Linked DNA regions of Homo sapiens: region 1 is linked to region 2. The links come from fine-mapping of genetic effects on gene expression. A gene starts in region 2. The other region holds a variant in brackets. All regions are shown on one strand. Distances are between the middles of the regions.

Region 1 (9,401 bases), 29 kb after region 2:
CCCCTGCCGCGTAGCTGCCTCTGCTTCTGCTACCCATGGGCCAGCATCTGTCGAGGTGCAGTAGCCTGAGAGCCAGCCTTTCTCTGCCATGGACAGAGCCAGGCCAGGGGATCGGGGCTCAGCGGGGGAGCCAGAATCCAGGAGGTGGGGTGAACAGTGGCTTCCTGTCCACCAGCCCCCATGGAAGGAGAGCCCACATCTGCCCATCCACTGCTGGGTGGGCACAGCTTGGGAATCAATGCCTGGCCCCACGGCAGGCACAGCTGCTGCTTCCATCCTGGGCTGGGAGGAAAGGAGCCCAGCCTGTGTGGGGCAGTGGCTGACTTCTGCTTCTCTGCCTGCTCCCTCCTGAGGCCTGGCCCAGTCCCTCGCTAGCCCCCCACAGCACTGGGCCACAGGCAGCCAGGCATCTCCATCCTCAGGCCCATCCCCTTTGGGTGAGAGAAAGGGCCTCGGATGACCAGGACAGGGCGAGCATGAACTCTGCAGTCAGCTGGACCAGGCTAGGAATTCAGGCTCTGCCAGGCATTGGCTGTATGATCTTAGACAAGTCACTTAAACTCAGCCTCAGTTTTCTCATCTGTGAAGTGGGGAGAAGGAGGTCCCTGACAAAGAGGGGTTGCTGGCAGACCTAGGCTTGGGAAGTCACTCTCACAGGCCCTCCTCCCTCTGCCCTCGGACTCCCTCCTGGGGATCCCCCTTGGGACACCCCACCACCACTTCCCTCGGTGCCTGTTAAGTGCTTTGACCCTCCAATATTGGTCACTGGCAAGCAGTGCAGAGACCCCAGCACCTCCCATACCCCAGCCCCAGCCCCCAGCCGCAGCCGCCCACAATGGGGGCTTCTCACAGCTGAAAGGGCTCATTCAGCCACCATGCAGCAGCCCGGACAATCTGGAGAAGAAAATAAACATTTCTTTCCACTGTTGGGATTGGCCACTCGACAGTGCCCCGGGCAGCTCGGGTTTCCTGGGGCTGCGAGGCCGCAGGGTGGGGGTACAGGAGCTCCAAGGAAGCTGCTGGGGGGTCTGAGGGAGTGCTGAGGGCAGGTACTTCCCCCACCACCCCGGAGGAGGGGTGGTGGCCCTGAGGAAAGAGGCTGGAGGGGATGGTGGCAGGTCCAGGGAGGCCCAGCCCAGCGCCCTGCAGCCCGCGTGAGCTCTGAGGGGCACAGTCCTGCCGTTGTATCCTGCGGTCCCCATTTGTTTCCTTCGTCTTGAGAATGGGGTTCCCATCAGGCGGCCAGCACCCACTTCCACCCCACCCATCTCAGCTGTGCTGACGTGCCCAGCACCTGCAACAGGACCTCTCCCCCCGAGGGGCTCCCCAGATGAAAACTGGCAGCCAGGTGCCTCGGAGGCTCTCGGCCTCAAGGGGCCGGGACAGCCAAGTGACCTACTAGGGAACATCCCAGATGTCCCAGAAGGCCCCCGCCACCCAGACTGCTGTCCCCACATCTTCTTACCTTAAGCCAGGAGCATCACTCCGTTCGGATCCACGCCCAGGGCCAGAGTACGCTGCTGAGGGAAACATACCCCAGCTGACTTGGGAAGACCCCAAAGCCCCGAGAAGTTCCAAGTCCCAGCCGAAGTCACACACACCTCAGGCTCATAGCTCTCCGTCCTCAGCCAAGCCTCGGCGTGGCAGGCAGAGCCCACTCCGGCTAGCACCGGCCCTTATCCTTTGGTGGGTGACACAGAGGGGTTGCTGGGCTGGACAGACTGCACCTCTGGACCACTGCTGGGGGCTCATCCACCTCCCCCGGCTGCCAGAGTAGAAGGGAGGCCCTGCACCAGGGCCTCAACTTGGCAGGGCCCTGAATGAGCCAGTTCTCCTGGGTACCCAGAGTAAGAGACACCACAGCCACAGTGGCCTTGCAAAGCCTCATGGACCCCTGCTCTGTGCCCAGTGCCATTCTAAGTACTCGATGTGAATTAACTGAATCCTGATGAACTGTTATCGTCTCATGTTTTATATGGGGAAACTGATGCGCAGAGAGGTTAAGTGACTTGCCCAAGGACACAAAGCTAGTAAGTGTCCAAACCAGGATAACTGTCCGGCTCCAGAAGCCACACAGTAAGCCTTGATCCTGTGCTGCCTCAAAGACGGGACAGCTCCCTCTCAAGTACGTGTTGGGGCTCAGGACCAGAGGCCCTAGGATTGTGTGCCAGGTCCAATGTGCTGTGTGACCCTGAGGGAAGTGCCTCACCCTGTCTGGGCCTCAGTTTCCCCATCAAGGGTGTTAGACTCAATCCCTGAGCCCCTTTGAATGCTGAGGTTTTGGGGGTCTGTGATGACAAAAGTTGGGGACAGAGGATGGAACACCCTTGCCTTGGAGCCCATTGAGAAGCCACATTCCTGGGGGAGCAGGGGCAGAGTCTGGGCTGGACACTGTGACCAGGTTGGGGTCTGGGTCCCCAAGTTTGTCTGACTGCTGTCTCACTTTGCTGCCAAGGCAGGTTAGGGTGGCATCCAGTCACTGTGTGGCCACGAGTCGGCTCCAGAGACACAGGCCCAGGGTGAGGTGGAGGCCAGAGCTCCTGTGAACTCAGTGCCCACAACCCAGGTGTGAGCGCACAGAACCTCCGCGTGCTGCACCTGGGCAGGAGAGGCACGTGTGTCCCCAGCAGAGGCCTTGTGATGAGAACCAGTCCTTTCTCTGCCACAGAGACTCAGTCTTGCTCTCTCTCTGCCTCCATTTTCTTGTCTTCAAAAGCGGGTTCCAACTCCCAGTCTCACACGGTCATTGGAGCCCTTTACACATCCACGGCCTTCCCAGCTGTTAACATGGGCCGGTGGGGAGAGGAACCTGCCTGGGCAGGGCTGCTGGGAGGCCTGAGCTGACTCTGCCCTCAGCCCCACCACCGCATCCTAGGCCTCTCCTCTGCGAGGCTGGGAAGGAGGATTTAAAAAGAAGAATAGACCCCCTCCTCTGTTCTGTTGCTGCTGTGGGGGGGCTCCCATGGCCCCTCTTGGCCCGGGGCACGCTCCAACCAGCTTCCCGGCAGGTCTGTGTTCGGAGTCCTGGCGGGGGAGGCCCCGGGCAGCCTAGGGCAGGAAGAGGAGAGCCAGGTCTAGAACTAGGGGTCCCCCAGATGGGCCTTGGGAACCAGAGCCCAAGGTCATTCTTCAGGAAGCCCTCCTGGGGTTGTCTCGAGCTGGAACTGACCTCTTCCCTGCTGTCCTCCAGGCACCTCGGAACTGAACCCATTCTCCGACCCCCGCCAGTTTGACCGCTCCTTCCCCACGCTGCCAACCCTCACGGAGAGCCGCTTCCCAGACCCCAGGATGCATTATCCCGGGGCCATGTCAGCTGCCTTCCCCTACAGCGCCACGCCCTCGGGCACGAGCATCAGCAGCCTCAGCGTGGCGGGCATGCCGGCCACCAGCCGCTTCCACCATACCTACCTCCCGCCACCCTACCCGGGGGCCCCGCAGAACCAGAGCGGGCCCTTCCAGGCCAACCCGTCCCCCTACCACCTCTACTACGGGACATCCTCTGGCTCCTACCAGTTCTCCATGGTGGCCGGCAGCAGCAGTGGGGGCGACCGCTCACCTACCCGCATGCTGGCCTCTTGCACCAGCAGCGCTGCCTCTGTCGCCGCCGGCAACCTCATGAACCCCAGCCTGGGCGGCCAGAGTGATGGCGTGGAGGCCGACGGCAGCCACAGCAACTCACCCACGGCCCTGAGCACGCCAGGCCGCATGGATGAGGCCGTGTGGCGGCCCTACTGACCGCCCTGGTGGACTCCTCCCGCTGGAGGCGGGGACCCTAACAACCTTCAAGACCAGTGATGGGCCGGCTCCGAGGCTCCGGGCGGGAATGGGACCTGCGCTCCAGGGTGGTCTCGGTCCCAGGGTGGTCCCAGCTGGTGGGAGCCTCTGGCTGCATCTGTGCAGCCACATCCTTGTACAGAGGCATAGGTTACCACCCCCACCCCGGCCCGGGATACTGCCCCCGGCCCAGATCCTGGCCGTCTCATCCCATACTTCTGTGGGGAATCAGCCTCCTGCCACCCCCCCGGAAGGACCTCACTGTCTCCAGCTATGCCCAGTGCTGCATGGGACCCATGTCTCCTGGGACAGAGGCCATCTCTCTTCCAGAGAGAGGCAGCATTGGCCCACAGGATAAGCCTCAGGCCCTGGGAAACCTCC[C/T]GACCCCTGCACCTTCGTTGGAGCCCCTGCATCCCCTGGGTCCAGCCCCCTCTGCATTTACACAGATTTGAGTCAGAACTGGAAAGTGTCCCCCACCCCCACCACCCTCGAGCGGGGTTCCCCTCATTGTACAGATGGGGCAGGACCCAGCACGCTGCTGGCAGAGATGGTTTGAGAACACATCCAAGCCAGTCCCCCCAGCCCAGCTTCCCCTCCGTTCCTAACTGTTGGCTTTCCCCCAGCCGCACGGGTCCCAGGCCCCAGAGAAGATGAGTCTATGGCATCAGGTTCTTAAACCCAGGAAAGCACCTACAGACCGGCTCCTCCATGCACTTTACCAGCTCAACGCATCCACTCTCTGTTCTCTTGGCAGGGCGGGGGAGGGGGGATAGGAGGTCCCCTTTCCCCTAGGTGGTCTCATAATTCCATTTGTGGAGAGAACAGGAGGGCCAGATAGATAGGTCCTAGCAGAAGGCATTGAGGTGAGGGATCATTTTGGGTCAGACATCAATGTCCCTGTCCCCCCTGGGTCCAGCCAAGCTGTGCCCCATCCCCCAAGCCTCCTGGGAGGATCCAGCCAAATCTTGCGACTCCTGGCACACACCTGTCTGTAACCTGTTTTGTGCTCTGAAAGCAAATAGTCCTGAGCAAAAAAAAAAAAAAAACAAAAAAACAAAAAAAAAACAAAACAGTTTTTAAAACTGATTTTAGAAAAAGAAGCTTAATCTAACGTTTTCAAACACAAGGTCTCTTACAGGTATAGTTCCGTGATTATGATAGCTCTGTGATTATAAGCAACATCCCCGCCCCCTCTCCCCCCCGCGGACCCCCAGCTGCCTCCTGAGGGTGTGGGGTTATTAGGGTCTCAATACTTTCTCAAGGGGCTACACTCCCCATCAGGCAGCATCCCACCAGCCTGCACCACAGGCTCCCCTGGGAGGACGAGGGAAACGCTGATGAGACGCTGGGCATCTCTCCTCTGTGGCTCTAGGACATCTGTCCAGGAGGCTGGGCGGAGGTGGGCAGGATGTGAGAGGTGGGGAGTACTGGCTGTGCGTGGCAGGACAGAAGCACTGTAAAGGGCTCTCCAGCCGCAGCTCAGCTGCACTGCGTTCCGAGGTGAAGTCTTGCCCCTGAATTTTGCAAAATGGGAAAGTGGGCGCTTGCCCAAGGGCCAGGCTGCATGGATTCTCACATCAGAGTTCTCTGGCCCTAGAAAGGCTTAGAAAAGGCGTAAGGGAACTCATAAAGGCTAGCAGCATGCGGTATTTTAACTTTCTGCCTCGGCCTCTGTGGATGCAGAAATCTGCCCTACAAAATGCTCTTCATTGGTTGTCTCTGTGAGAGCACTGTCCCCACCCAACCTGTCACAACGGCCAGAACCATACACCAGAGACACACTGGCAGGTTAGGCAGTCCTTCTGGTGATCCTATTCCATTCCCTCCTGCTGCGGTTTCTCTTGGCCTGTCCTCACTGGAAAAACAGTCTCCATCTCCTCAAAATAGTTGCTGACTCCCTGCACCCAAGGGGCCTCTCCATGCCTTCTTAGGAAGCAGCTATGAATCCATTGTCCTTGTAGTTTCTTCCCTCCTGTTCTCTGGTTATAGCTGGTCCCAGGTCAGCGTGGGAGGCACCTTTGGGTTCCCAGTGCCCAGCACTTTGTAGTCTCATCCCAGATTACTAACCCTTCCTGATCCTGGAGAGGCAGGGATAGTAAATAAATTGCTCTTCCTACCCCATCCCCCATCCCCTGACAAAAAGTGACGGCAGCCGTACTGAGTCTGTAAGGCCCAAAGTGGGTACAGACAGCCTGGGCTGGTAAAAGTAGGTCCTTATTTACAAGGCTGCGTTAAAGTTGTACTAGGCAAACACACTGATGTAGGAAGCACGAGGAAAGGAAGACGTTTTGATATAGTGTTACTGTGAGCCTGTCAGTAGTGGGTACCAATCTTTTGTGACATATTGTCATGCTGAGGTGTGACACCTGCTGCACTCATCTGATGTAAAACCATCCCAGAGCTGGCGAGAGGATGGAGCTGGGTGGAAACTGCTTTGCACTATCGTTTGCTTGGTGTTTGTTTTTAACGCACAACTTGCTTGTACAGTAAACTGTCTTCTGTACTATTTAACTGTAAAATGGAATTTTGACTGATTTGTTACAATAATATAACTCTGAGATGTGTGGAAGGAGTCCAGTGCCCGGTTTCTAGGGCTATGCATGGAGGTGGGGTGGGGTGGGGGAGAGGATGGAGACCTCCTGCTGTTGCCCAGGAGGAACAGGAACAGAGACACCCAGCACCTTCATCTCCTTGCTTCCAACTTCTTCAGGAATGGCCGCAGAGACCACCCTGGCCACAGGACAGCCGGTGAGGCCTGCTCCTGTATGGCTGGGACCCCAGGAGAGCATCAAATAGGTCTTCAAAGTGCCACAACCCTTCCACCAATCATGAGCGGGCTGTGAGTCTTCCCAGCCGTGTTGGGAGGAATTCCTATGCCTGTTCCTCAGATTCACATTTCGGGAGGGGGCAGAGGCAGAGGGAGAGTCCAAGTGCCTTGGTGAGAACCCCCCTCTGAGGCTCGTGTTTCAAGATCTGTGGCAAGCTAGCAGCAGTGGGGATTGGGAGTAAGCGGCAACTTCAGTGCCCCCATTTTGCAGATGAGACAACTGCGGTGCAAAGAAGGAGTGTCATCAAGGTCCATGTCTCCCTGGGGTTGTCCATGGCTGAACTGGGACCACAGCCCAACAATGGTAGCATGGGTGTGATGGTGTGGGGACCTGGCTTGACAGCCCCCCTCCCACCTTGCCAGCAAGGAGGCCTGGTCCACTTGGGATTTGTACCAACACACAGCCCAGAGCCTGGCCAGTTGGGATTTGTGAAGGGAAATTTTTACAAAACAGACCTTATTTTTGAGTGATGCCCACCGACTTCAAAAACCACTCCCAAAGCTTTGCCCTGCTCAGTTTGGTTGGTCTGCCTGAAACTCAGCTCCCAACAAGAAGCTTCCATTTCCCTAGCCCGGCATCCCCTTTTACCCAAAAGACAGCAGGTCCATCTCTGGACAGGACCTCAGCCGTGGCTACAGAACTTCTCTGTTGGTCTGCTCTGGGCAGCCTCTGCCAGGGTTGGTCCTGAAACGGCATCTACATGGCCAAAACTGTTTCTATTTATTTGGGGTCACTTTGTAGGGGATGGTAGCACTCCTCACCAGGCACACTTTGGTGCCACAGCAGATCGGAGAGGAGCTGTGCCCTCCAGAGTTCCTGACTCAAATCTCCATCACCTGCACCCTAGCAGGCACGAACCAGCACACCCAGCTTGCCAAGGGGAAACTCAAGGTCCCGAGAAGTCTCAGCTTGCCTGAGGTCCCAGGGCTGCGGGAGGAAGTGCTGCAGTAGCCACAGCAGCCTGCAGGTGGCAATAGGGGGCGGCATCCCTGGGCAGCAGGTGGAGAGAGTGGACATCATCCCCTTTGGACAAGGGTGAGGAGAGGCTGCCTTGGTTACAGCAAGAATTCAGGTAAGGTATTAAGAAGAACTTCCCAACCTCAGGTGACTCATTCCCGAAAGGGCCAGCTAAAGGTCTTGATGTGGGGAAGGTTTTCCCTTCCCGAGCCGTGTGGCAGTGGGAGGTCCCTGTCCCTCTCTGAGTCTCCCTTTTTGGTCATACGCTGAATGAGCACCGGCCGTGTGCCAGGTGTGGAGTAGGACCCCACACCCCATAATCGTCTGCTTTGGGACAGGGTGTACCTGGCTTGAAGGCAGGGTTGACTTTCATAGTTTTACAACCCTGGCCTCCTGGACCCTGGGCCCAGCCCCACCCATGTCCCCTGAGCCACCAGCAAGAGCTTAGGTCATGTAGAAGCCAGTTCAGATTGAGGAAGCCATTTAGTTCCACAGCCTGGGAGCCCCTGGACTCCAGAATTCCGCTTTGGAGGCTCTAGGAGTCCTGTTGATCTGGGCTGGACTTTGAGTCCCTCCAGTTTCTTCAGCCCCCACAGCTTGAGGTTGGCCCAGATGGGCCCAATGATGGACCCAGAGAGCCGGCTGTGGCCTGGGGGCTCCCAGAAGTGGCCTCCTGTGGGGTGAAGTGGCCCAGATGGACCCGCCTTGCCGGCCCCTAGGAGCAGCCCTGCCACTGTTGGGCTGTGGCCATGGGGATGGCTTTGGCTTTTACACTGAGCAATGGATGTCCTGGCAGTGAGGCTACAGGCCAGAGATGACACATTCCCACGTTAGGGCCTGGTGAGGGCTTGAGGAGATGGCGCGGGGTGGGGCCAGTGCCGTGGGTAGGGGAGGGCAGGGCTGGATGCAGACCCAGCCCTGCCTCCCTCCTCAGCCCCGGCCTCTCCTCTGCTCCAGACTGCACCCCCGCATAAATGCAGCCCCCCAGCATGGCCCAGAGGGCAGCTCTCAGCTGCACCAAACAACCCAGCCTGGCCACGTGAGTAGAGAATACACCTCAGTGGGTCGGTTCATTTTGGGGTCGTAAATGAAATGAGCTGTCAAATGGGACGGGGGCAGGAGGGAGGCCAGAGTGAAAGAATGAACTGTTCCTGGCAGAAATCCAAAATGCCCCTCATTCCTCCCCATGAGGGCTCCAGAGCTGGGAGGGGTGAGGGGCCACATCGCCCCGACATCCGCAGCCACACCTGTGTGGTCCAGTGGCTGGGGAAGCCTGGGGAGCCGGATCCCGCGCTTCCTATTTTTAGTTTTGCAGCTAAGAGTGCGCTGTGTGTTTTATATATTTATATTCACCCACAGAAAGGGCCTGCCCTGGGCCTGGCCCAGGGGACCTATCATGGGAAGGGGAGTGCGGCAGCCCTGGAGCCGGCCTGGACTACCCTCCTTTGTGCCCACCCTGACGGCTGGCAGCAATGTGGGCTCTCTGGTGTCCAAACACACCATTTGGGCCACACCACCCCACTCAGCTCATTGGGCTGGGTGTCTTTGAGGCCTTGGCCAGAATTCATTCACTCATTCACCAGACACAGAGCCCCACCCCACCCTCAGGTGCCAGACACCAAGAACAAGGTGAACAAGTCACAGCCATGGCCTCAGGGATCTCACAGGGCAGACAGACAGGAAAGCAGGTTGTGCCAGCCCAGTGTGGATCAGGGCAAACAAGCCAAGCTCCTCAGAGAAAATGTCTCTCCCCCGAGATCAGATGGAAAGATGAGTAGGAATGGATCAAGCAGAGATGTGGCAGGAGGGAATCCCATGTGCAAAGGCCTGGAGAACCAGGTG
Region 2 (9,401 bases):
CACCACCCTGCTCTCCCTTGCTCCTTCTCCCTCCCCTCCAAGTCTGGAACTTTCCAAAAAGGAAGAAAGATCTCTGTAATTTGAGAAGCACATTTGTGCTCCCACACATTCTGAATCCTTCCAGAGAGGCTGCCCAGGATAGATGACCCCAGAGCTGGACTCTCTGGAGCTGGACCCCCGGCCTACAGGAGACAACCCCTCAACCCAGATATATTGCCATTTTTCATTAACATTTCTCGCTTATATATTCAGAGATCATTATCTGAAATCAGGATGCAGATGAGTCCTAGTTTACTCAGCAGCATTTTCTTTCTGTTTCTTCAAACAATCGATCATCAATCACAATGATGCCCCTCCCCTCCTAGAGGGAATCCTTAATCCCCCTCCCGTGAAATGGAGTGGTTAGAATGACCTCCATTGACAGAAGAGGAAATTGAGGCTCAGTGAGGGGCATGAATGTCCCCTTTGAGTTCTAGGGCACTGGGCAGGAGATAGGTTTCACCACGGGTCCCTCTGGACAGGGGATTTAGGGCCAGGCTGGGAGAAATTTTCAGTTCTAGAAGAGAGTCCTCTGCTCTCTTCGCTGGACTAGGCTCCTGTGTGATTCGGGATATGGGGAACAGAGGCCTCCTGGGAAGGAAACGGGGTCCCTGGCAGTGTCCGCTGAGGCCCAGTTGCTACTCAGGAAAGGGTCTGCCCACAGGAGGGCGGCCGGCTGGGGGCGAAAGTGAGGTTCTGAGAGGAATGGTCAGACAGGCAATCATCGAGACCCAGCTCTGGCCGCCCTGTGATGGTTGCTGGAAACCCCGCTATGAGCTGACTCCACGTGGAGGTAGGTCACAGCCAGTCCTTACCTCCCCCAGGCAGCCTGTGGGCGAATTGAGGGATCAGGACAGCATGGACTGGCTTGGAGTCCTAGTAAGCTTTGAATATGAGAACTGGACATTTCACAGATGGAAGTGTGAGGCCCAGAGAGAGGAGGGGTGGGTCAAAGGCCCCCAGCAAGGATTGAGAGGTCTTATTTTTTCATGACAGTGATGGCTCCCGGAGGCTGGAGCACCCTCCATGTGCCAGGCCTGTGCTAAGCACTTTACACACAATTCTATGAAGGGCCACTATGAGTGCCCCACTTTACAAATGAAAGAAATGAGGCTCAGAGAGGTTTAGGCAACTTTCCCTAGAGCGCTGTGGGTGAGGGAAAAAGACACGCTCAGGCAGAGGGACTGTGGACCCCAGCTCCTTCCATAGCCCATGGACCTCTTAGGCGGTTTCCCAGGGCACACCTGCCCCTTGTCTGGTATACCTGGGGATCCCTGCCCAGGCGCCACAGAGTCCACATGAATCACACCTGCCCTGGGAAGGCGGCACCCTCACTGCCAAGAACGCACTTAGAGAGCACTCCTAAATGCCAGAGGGAGACGAATCCCCTTCCTGGGGCAAAGGAGCTGGCTCTATTTGCCCGGGGATGGGTTCTGGGTTTACCCAGCTCTAAGTCAAGGTAGGGTAGGGGAGTGTCCTGACCTTCTGCTTCCTAGCCCTGCTGTGGACAACTTAGGGTGCTCTTAGGTGGGGGCCACTGGGGAGAAACTGGCCTGTTTGTCCATCGATCTGATGGAAGAGGGAGAAAAGACGACGGTCCATGCCAACTGGGGAAGGGCGAGGGTGTCTGCATGCCCCAGGTGGGGGAGTCGGAGTTCTCCCTCCCATCAAACAGACGACAATTTTTGTCGGTCCGGGATGGGGAGGAAGCAGGTGGAAATTGGGAACAAGCTAGCCTGTTCTGTGGGTCTTCCCCGGGTGCCTGAAAACGCGAAGACAGAAGGCGTCCATCTTATCAGAGGTGAGGAAGGCGGCCTTGGTTTGACACAAAGCCATCGGTTTGTCTGAGACCTGGCCGCATGGATGGCAAGGAAAGGGCAGCTCCTCGGGGGCGGTCGCCGCGCCTGCACCCGGGGCCGCAGCTGGCGCGCATCTGTAGCCCGGCCGGGCCCGCACCTCCGCGGCTGGCAGGGCGCGGGCGCCAACTAGCGGCGGCTCCCGCCACTGTGCCTGCCAGGCGGCCCCGCGACCTTGGTCTGGGGACCCAAGGGCCTGCACCCGCCCCCCCTCCCCCCGCCGCCCTGGTCCCTTGGATCTGGTGCCCACGGGGAGCCAGCGCCCTACGGAGAGCCGGAGCCGTGCCGGGCCCTGCGCCAGGTGCCAGGGCCCACAAGAGTCCCTCATTCTCTGGAAACTTGTCTGTGAACCCATCGTAAGCGGAGAGGGAGAAATCAGGCGGAGGAACAAGCAAAGGGCACGGTGCAAACCGAAACCATTCGACAAATGGAATTTACCACCACCTGAAACAGCGGGTCATGGTCCCGCAACCTGCTCGAGGGCAGCACGTGTTGCCCGCCCCCGGCCAGGGCCCTACCTGGCCACGACGCGCTGCGCCTTCTCGGAGACGTTCCCGGAGGTGGGAGCGCCCAGGCTGGATCACTCGCTTTCCTCTAGTTCTGCTGCTCGTGCCAGCGCGTCCGAGGGCGCGCGGGCCTGGGTCCGCAATCGACAACTGCCAGGCGCAGGCTCTCTTAAAAGGTTCAGTAAGGGACCTTTGCCGTCCTTCCTTTCGACACGGCCTGAGGGCGTGCTGTGAGGTCCCGAGGTGGGTAGGGGCCAGCTCTCCCGGTGGTCGGGGTGAGTCCAGAGTCCTTCGCCCCTGGAGCGCACGCGGGGCTTGATTTCGTTTGGCAACGACGAAATGGCGCGCGCTGAGCAGGGGTCAGATCCATGATGAGATCTTGCGGCCACCGTCGGATCCTAAGCTTCTTTGCTTCCGAGGCTTGGAATTCATTGTTTTGCACCTGTCGAGAGCCGGAGGCAACGAAAATCTAGCCCCGTCTCCAAAGCGGCGGGGAGGCTCAGCACGCGTTCGTTCCCCAGAGTCTAGGGAGGTGTCTGGGGCGATAATTCGGAATGATTGTGGCTTGATCTTTCCCGTTGCCCTCCCAACTGTAGCCGGCCCCTAGGTCTGCTCGACAGACTTAGGAGGCGGGAGAGGAAGGGGTGATTTGCAGTGAAGCCCAGGAGAGGTTGGGCCACGCGGCTGGGAGTGGGAGCGGGGACCCGGAGCCGGGCGGGCAGGCAGTGCCTTGGCGAAGCTGTCCGCGGTCCCTGCGGCGCAGCCGGAGCGCACGGGCCCAAGAAGAAGTGGGGTTGGACCCGCAGAGGCCACTTTCCACCCGCATGGAGAAAGAAAATTCTCTCCTCTGAAAGCGAGGGCCCTTAGCTTTGCAGCCACTGCTGTTTTTCTTTTGCCACCGACGCGCGTACCGTTTCACGATGCAGGACCGTGGTTACATGCGTAAAGGAAAAAAAGAAAAACGCATTTTGCAGGCCTCGTCGTGTTTTTCAAAGAGCCACAGGCCGCCACAACGAAGAACGACGCCGCGAGGCCTGCAAGATCCTGAAACTTGTTTTGAGGGGAGAGCAGAGAGGAAAGGGGTTGTTGGCCCCAGGCTACTTAGGGTCCCTAGGAGACTCCCTTCCGCCTGTCCCCGGTTTGGCACAGGGGCCACCGAGGCTGGGACCAAAGCCGCGCAGGGCTGGGAGCAGCAAAGGCCGCCGGCCGGGCGTGGACGACGCGCAAAATCCCGTGTGGGGTGGAGGCTCTTGGGTCAGAATAATGTGCGGGACGAGGGAGGTGAGTAACCTCTTTGGGGCGGCTCCCAGTGCGGCGTCACCGGCCCTGAGACCCCGCGGCCCCCAGCCCGGGGTTGCAGAAGTCACAGGCCCGAAGCAGCAAGAGCTGGGGAAGCCCGGCCGCGGCCAGCGGGGAGGAGGAGCGAAGGGGTTGCGCCCCAGCGTCAGGGAGCTACGACCCGAGAGAGGGCGGCAAGGGCGCCTTCCGTGGGACCCGGACGTTCTAAGCAAATTTCTAGCATTTGCCCCGGGCTCCCAGAGCTCTCGGGGGCCCTGGGCTGTGGCACTGGGGCCTCCTCCGCGGGGTGGCGCCTTCCGCCCCTCCCCGTTGGGCGGCCTCCGGCAGGCCCCGTTCCTCCCCGCGAACGCCACCGAGGTGCCCGCGATGGGGGCTCCGCCGATTGGCTGTGCGACGCGTCGCTCCGCCAGCCCCGCCCCGCGGGCCCCGGGGGTACTAACCCCGCGCGGGCGGCCGCGGCCCCGCCACTTGATTCTGGAGGATTTGTTCTGGGGCTGCGGCCGCGGAGTCGGGGCGGCCGCGGGCGAGCTTCGGGGCGGGAGGCGGCGGCAGCGGCACAGCCCCGCGCGGGCCCCGCCGCGGCCCAGGCAGCCGGGACAGCCACGAGGGGCGGCCGCACGCGGGGCCGCGCGCCGAGGATGCGGGACTAGCCGGGCAGGCTGCGGGCGGCCGTCGGGCCAGCGAGGCCTCGCAGCGGGCGGGCCCTGGCGAGTAGTGGCCGGGCGCCGCCCCCTGCGCCCTGAGGCCCGGGCCCCGCCGCTTCTGCTTTCCCGCTTCTCGCGGCAGCGGCGGCCGAGGAGGCGCCCGCGCCGGCCGCCCCCGGGGGAAGCCGCGCCGTCTCCGCCTGCCCGGCGCCCTGACGGCCGCTGTTATGCGTATTCCCGTAGACCCAAGCACCAGCCGCCGCTTCACACCTCCCTCCCCGGCCTTCCCCTGCGGCGGCGGCGGCGGCAAGATGGGCGAGAACAGCGGCGCGCTGAGCGCGCAGGCGGCCGTGGGGCCCGGAGGGCGCGCCCGGCCCGAGGTGCGCTCGATGGTGGACGTGCTGGCGGACCACGCAGGCGAGCTCGTGCGCACCGACAGCCCCAACTTCCTCTGCTCCGTGCTGCCCTCGCACTGGCGCTGCAACAAGACGCTGCCCGTCGCCTTCAAGGTGAGTGCGGGACCCGGGGCGGGAGGGCGCCGGCCCTGGGGCTCCGGGCGTCTGAGCTGCGGGAGCCAGAGCCTCGGGAGCAGTGGGGATGGGAGGTGCCCGAGACGCCGCGGCGACACCCGGGCACCCGGTTCAGTCTGGCTGCGCGCTCGGCTCCGGGACCTCGGCGTTCCGTTTTGGATGCGCCCTGCAGGAATGACTTTTAACGGGGTTGCCCCGCTCCACCTGGGTTTTGGGGCGCCTTGCGTAGAGACGTTGGTGCGGAAATGGGCGGATGGGGTTTTGCGCCCCCCTAACCCGGATCGCTCAGATACAGCCCTGCGGGTAACGGAGAAGAGGATCCCGGGACAGGGGCAAGGACACCGCGGGTGGGGTGCGAACGGTGAAAGGGCCTACCCTCCGCCTCCAGCACCCCTCCTCCCGCGCCGCTTCGCAAAAGCTTCCTGCTCACACCCTCGGGCTTCCGAAATTTTACCGGACGGCGCTAGGCCGGGATCGGGGCACTGCTCTCCAGACGTTTGCTCGGGGATATTATGCGTCCCGAATGGCGAGTTGAGATTGGGGGACCCCTAACCCTGGCAGCCCCCAGCCATTTAGAGGACCTTTTTCTTTATGCCAGGGAGTAGGCGACTGTTTCATTTTCATTTTTTTAAGGGGGCAGCGAGATGAAACGAAAACGCCTCGGTTTTCCCCTAAACCTCTCACAGCTGCCGTGAGAAAAGGGCAGGGCAGGAAGGGCCGGCGGCTGGGGGTGGTGCTGCCCGAGGTGGCTGGAAGCTGAGGCCGTCCCTGCTCCCATTAAGACGACTCTAAATGGGAAAAAAAGGAAGAGTGGCTCTTTGAGGTCTCCCGGGTGACATCTTAAAATACCAGTGGGGGAAATCTCGCCGGGAGGGGCGGGAGGCCCGTGTGACTTTAATCGTCAGATCGGAGGTTTTACTGTCACTTGGAGCTTAAAAGGAGTCTTTGAAATTAAAAGAAGACAGGATGTTGACAGGAAATCTGGTCTTCTTAATCAGATCCCAAACATTTTCTCCTTGAAATTTTTACCATATGGATCCCCAGTCCCTGCACGCGGCGGCCACGTTTAAATAGTTGTGACTCTGTTTAAAGTCTGATTCTTTTTCAAAAGGCATCCGCCTCTCCGTGCTCCTGGGGGTGGGGGATTTGGGGGAGATGGTGTTTAGGGGGACATCGCCACCCCCATCCTGCAATTCCCGGCAGGTGCATCCTTCCATTATCAAAAGCCCCACTCTCACTTTAAAGGGGTTTTCTGGTGGCCTTTTTCAAAACACCAGTGAGTTTTGCATTCTGCATTTTCTCTGCATAACGAATTTAGGCTCTGCAGAGGCCAATAAACTGGGCCTGGTCCACATTTCAGGGCCAAATTTCATGCCCTAAACAGCTCTTGCATAAATTGAGTGGGGGTAGCAGCCCTGTTGTTATTATTGTTGTTACTCTTTCTCATTTGGAGACTTCGTTGCTAGGAGCATGTTGATTCCTCTTTCGCTGCAGCCGAAGACAACAGGGGAACTGCACCCCACATCATAGTGACTGAGCTGATTCACAGCTCTGGCTTAGATTTCATTGAAAGGATGATTTCTTGGGACACAGTTTATGTAAGCAGTTGATCTAGGATTTTGGTGTGGAAGCTCGAGATTCCATCTTCTTGTTTTCGTGATATTTGGGGGAAGGTCTTTATTGTTTTTAAGCCTCTTCTCCACCCTGCATTGGAGAAATACTCAGTGTGCCTGGGACCTGGGGGAGCTGCCCAGCCCAGCCCCTCCCCTCCTTTCCCTGGTCACCCTCTTCCTTTCTAAGCTGTCCCCCTGCATCCCCCCGCCCCGTGTCTTCAGGTGGTGGCATTGGGGGACGTGCCGGATGGTACGGTGGTGACTGTGATGGCAGGCAATGACGAGAACTACTCCGCTGAGCTGCGCAATGCCTCGGCCGTCATGAAGAACCAGGTGGCCAGGTTCAACGACCTTCGCTTCGTGGGCCGCAGTGGGCGAGGTAAGTGGAAGGGAGGCCTCGCCATTTCAGCATTGGCAATGGCAGGGGCAGCAGGGAAGGAGGTTGAAAGAGGGGCCTTAGAATCCCGAAAAACAGGTCTCCAGATGCAGCTCTGTCTAAAAACAGCAATTTGTAATCCTGTAGGATATTACAGATCGCTTTGAGGAGGTGAGGAAAGTTATGGTCTCTTGCCAGAAAAAGACAATTTTCTCCCAGTTTCTAGGGTTTACCAACTCCTGAAACCGTTCATGCCACCCCCTCTTTCCCGGTTAAGCACACCTGGTCTCACAAAAAATGCTGGCAGGAGATGGTGGATTAACAAGCTCAAAAAGGGAGCTTATAGGTCTTTCAGCAAGGCGGTTGCAGGACAAGTCCCTGATCTGTGGGGCCCAAGCACCCCAGCCACTCTCTCCATAGGGGGCAGAATATCCCCCACACTCTGAGGCTGTCTCTCCAGCTGTGGTCTCCCAGACCCAGTTTCCCAGCGCCTTTGAGCCCTAGGTGGTCTAGAACGGAAGCTAACGCAGCTGAATGTTGGAAAGCACAGCTCGAAGGCTGCCATCTCCTGCCCCAGAGTCAAGGCGGGTGTGCCACCCTGCCTGTCTGACCGACCTTGAGCAGCAGAAGGAAGGCGGGACGGGGGTGGGGGGCTGTTGAATGGGAGGCTTCTGGGACCTGAAACCCATCATCACTTAACTCCTGGATGGGAAAGTCCTGGAAACCCTGCCCCTGTGGAACGGAGGCCTGAGGGTCCACTGGCCCTTTAAGACCAGCCTGCCTACGAGAAGTGGCTGAAGTGGGAGTCGCCCTTCCCAAGCACCAGGCCCGCCTCTAGCTTTGTTAAGAAGTAAGCTGGGTTCCCTCTGCTCCCCAACTCCACAGCAGGCTGAAGTGGCTGAAGCAGAACCGTGCTTTTCATCACCAATAAACAGGACCTTCTCAAGGTTCTAGTTCCCTCTGAGCTGCCAGCCCCGCTCTGAAACAGGCATCTGGGCACCATTTTTTCCTTTCCAGCCGTTCGATGTATACATACAAATGTCAGCCATATTTTGACTTTTCAGCATTAATTAAAACCAGGACATTATTTGCATGTAATAACTGTTTACTTGTTACTTTTTATGAAACTGAAATAGTTTACATTCTTTCAAACATTTCCTGTTCCTGTTGGCTCCCTTCCCCACACACAGATTTCTTTCAAACGGTGCCCTTAACTGGTTGCAGGTTGATGGATGGAAAATGTTTGCTTTTATGAATTAAGCTTTCATTGCTGCTCCTAATTAGTCTCCAAGTCCCTTTTGTCATCCCCAATCTCTCAAACCCTTTGCGACTTAATCCCAACCCTGAGAGGACAGTCACTGGTCCTTGGTCGGTGGCAGACAAGGCTGATGAGCTCTGCTGACTGCGGGGCAGTGGCCAGGTCTGCTAGCCCAGGTATGTGTCAGGAGCACTATAGCTGCTGCCTGTTGCGAGGCGGGCAGAAGGTGCTGTCGATCTGGGAGCCCAGCAAGGCATCAGGAACTTGATTCTCCCTTCCCACTCTCTCTCCTGGGAAGCGAGAGAAAGAGAAGAGACGACGATTTTCTGAGTTACCGAGACCTTGTCTGGCCATTCTGCACACTGAGAATGATTTTTTTAGGGGTTTTCATGCCCACAGACCTTGAGCCCCCCTCCCCAGGCCTGCAGGGAGGGAAATGGGTTTCCAAGGCGTTGGTTGGGAGCTTGTCCTTGTAGCAGGAATGGCCGAGGCTGGGACTGTGGCTCTGGGAGATGCAAGAGGCTGAGTTTATAAACCATTCTCTCATCCATCTCCTCTCAGAGGTCCATAACCAGTCTCAGTGGTCCTGGGAGGCAGGAAGTGATCTGAGGAGGAGTTCCGATGTCTGAGGAACTGTGGCTAAGGCGTTCAGCCTTCAGAGGCTCGAGGTCTTTGAGAGCCTGCATTCTAGTATCAGCCACCCTGCGTTTGAGTCCCAGCTCTGCTAATGACTTGCTGGATGACATTGGGCAAATGACTTAACCACTCTGTGCCTCAGTTTCCTCATCTGTGAGATGGGGATGATAATGGTACCTACCTCATGAGATTTTGGGAAGGTTAGGGAAATTGACACAAGTGTATCAGCTGGCGCATATTGAGAGCTGGATACATGTTAGAGATTTTGTTACTTCAAATGCCTGGGACTGGAGGAGGACTTTGAGGTCCCTTTGAGCGGTGACAGCCACTGATTCTCTGATTACTGTGTGGTTTGGGCGGGGGTGGGGGAAACCCAGAAGGTGTGAACTGCTGAGTGGGAGAGGTGGAGGCGGTTGGCAGGGAGGAAGGAGGGTGCCGGGTCCGCTGGCATGCAGACACACATCTGCAGTGCCCATCCTGCTGACTGGGAAATTCCCACCTGAGAGAACAGTCAGTGGTTGACAGTGACAATCTGGGCCACTTTAGGAGATGGGACACTTTGGGAGTTAAGACTGGGGGTTGGGACCCAGAACCCTTGCCTGGGTCTCTTGACTTCTGCCAGAACTAAGAAGTCTGATGGAAAC

What was found. PIP is the estimated chance that this variant, and not a neighbour inherited with it, causes the effect.
Region 1: its variant is fine-mapped to the expression of RUNX3 in whole blood (TOPMed, PIP above 0.99).

Annotation. Positions count from the first base shown.
Region 1 is chr1:24,896,456-24,905,856 of GRCh38, reverse strand. It overlaps RUNX3 (RUNX family transcription factor 3), which reads left to right. Exons shown (of 5, transcript NM_004350.3): 5 at 3,191-6,346. The coding sequence ends at 3,735. Among named protein-coding and RNA genes, the nearest start is that of MIR6731, 18 kb to the left of the region's middle. RefSeq lists enhancers at 3,460-3,529, 3,610-3,679, 4,010-4,459, 5,227-5,276, 7,367-7,436. The variant C/T (reference allele first, on the strand shown) is at 4,156.
Region 2 is chr1:24,925,039-24,934,439 of GRCh38, reverse strand. RUNX3 (RUNX family transcription factor 3) reads left to right here and starts at 4,164. Exons shown (of 5, transcript NM_004350.3): 1 at 4,164-4,853; 2 at 6,710-6,866. The coding sequence starts at 4,572. It overlaps RUNX3-AS1 (RUNX3 antisense RNA 1), which reads right to left and starts at 3,983. Exons shown (of 4, transcript NR_183341.1): 1 at 2,414-3,983. RefSeq lists silencers at 1,926-2,145, 3,816-4,285, 4,486-4,925 and enhancers at 2,461-3,050, 4,490-5,223, 5,396-5,575, 5,224-5,958, 7,370-7,639.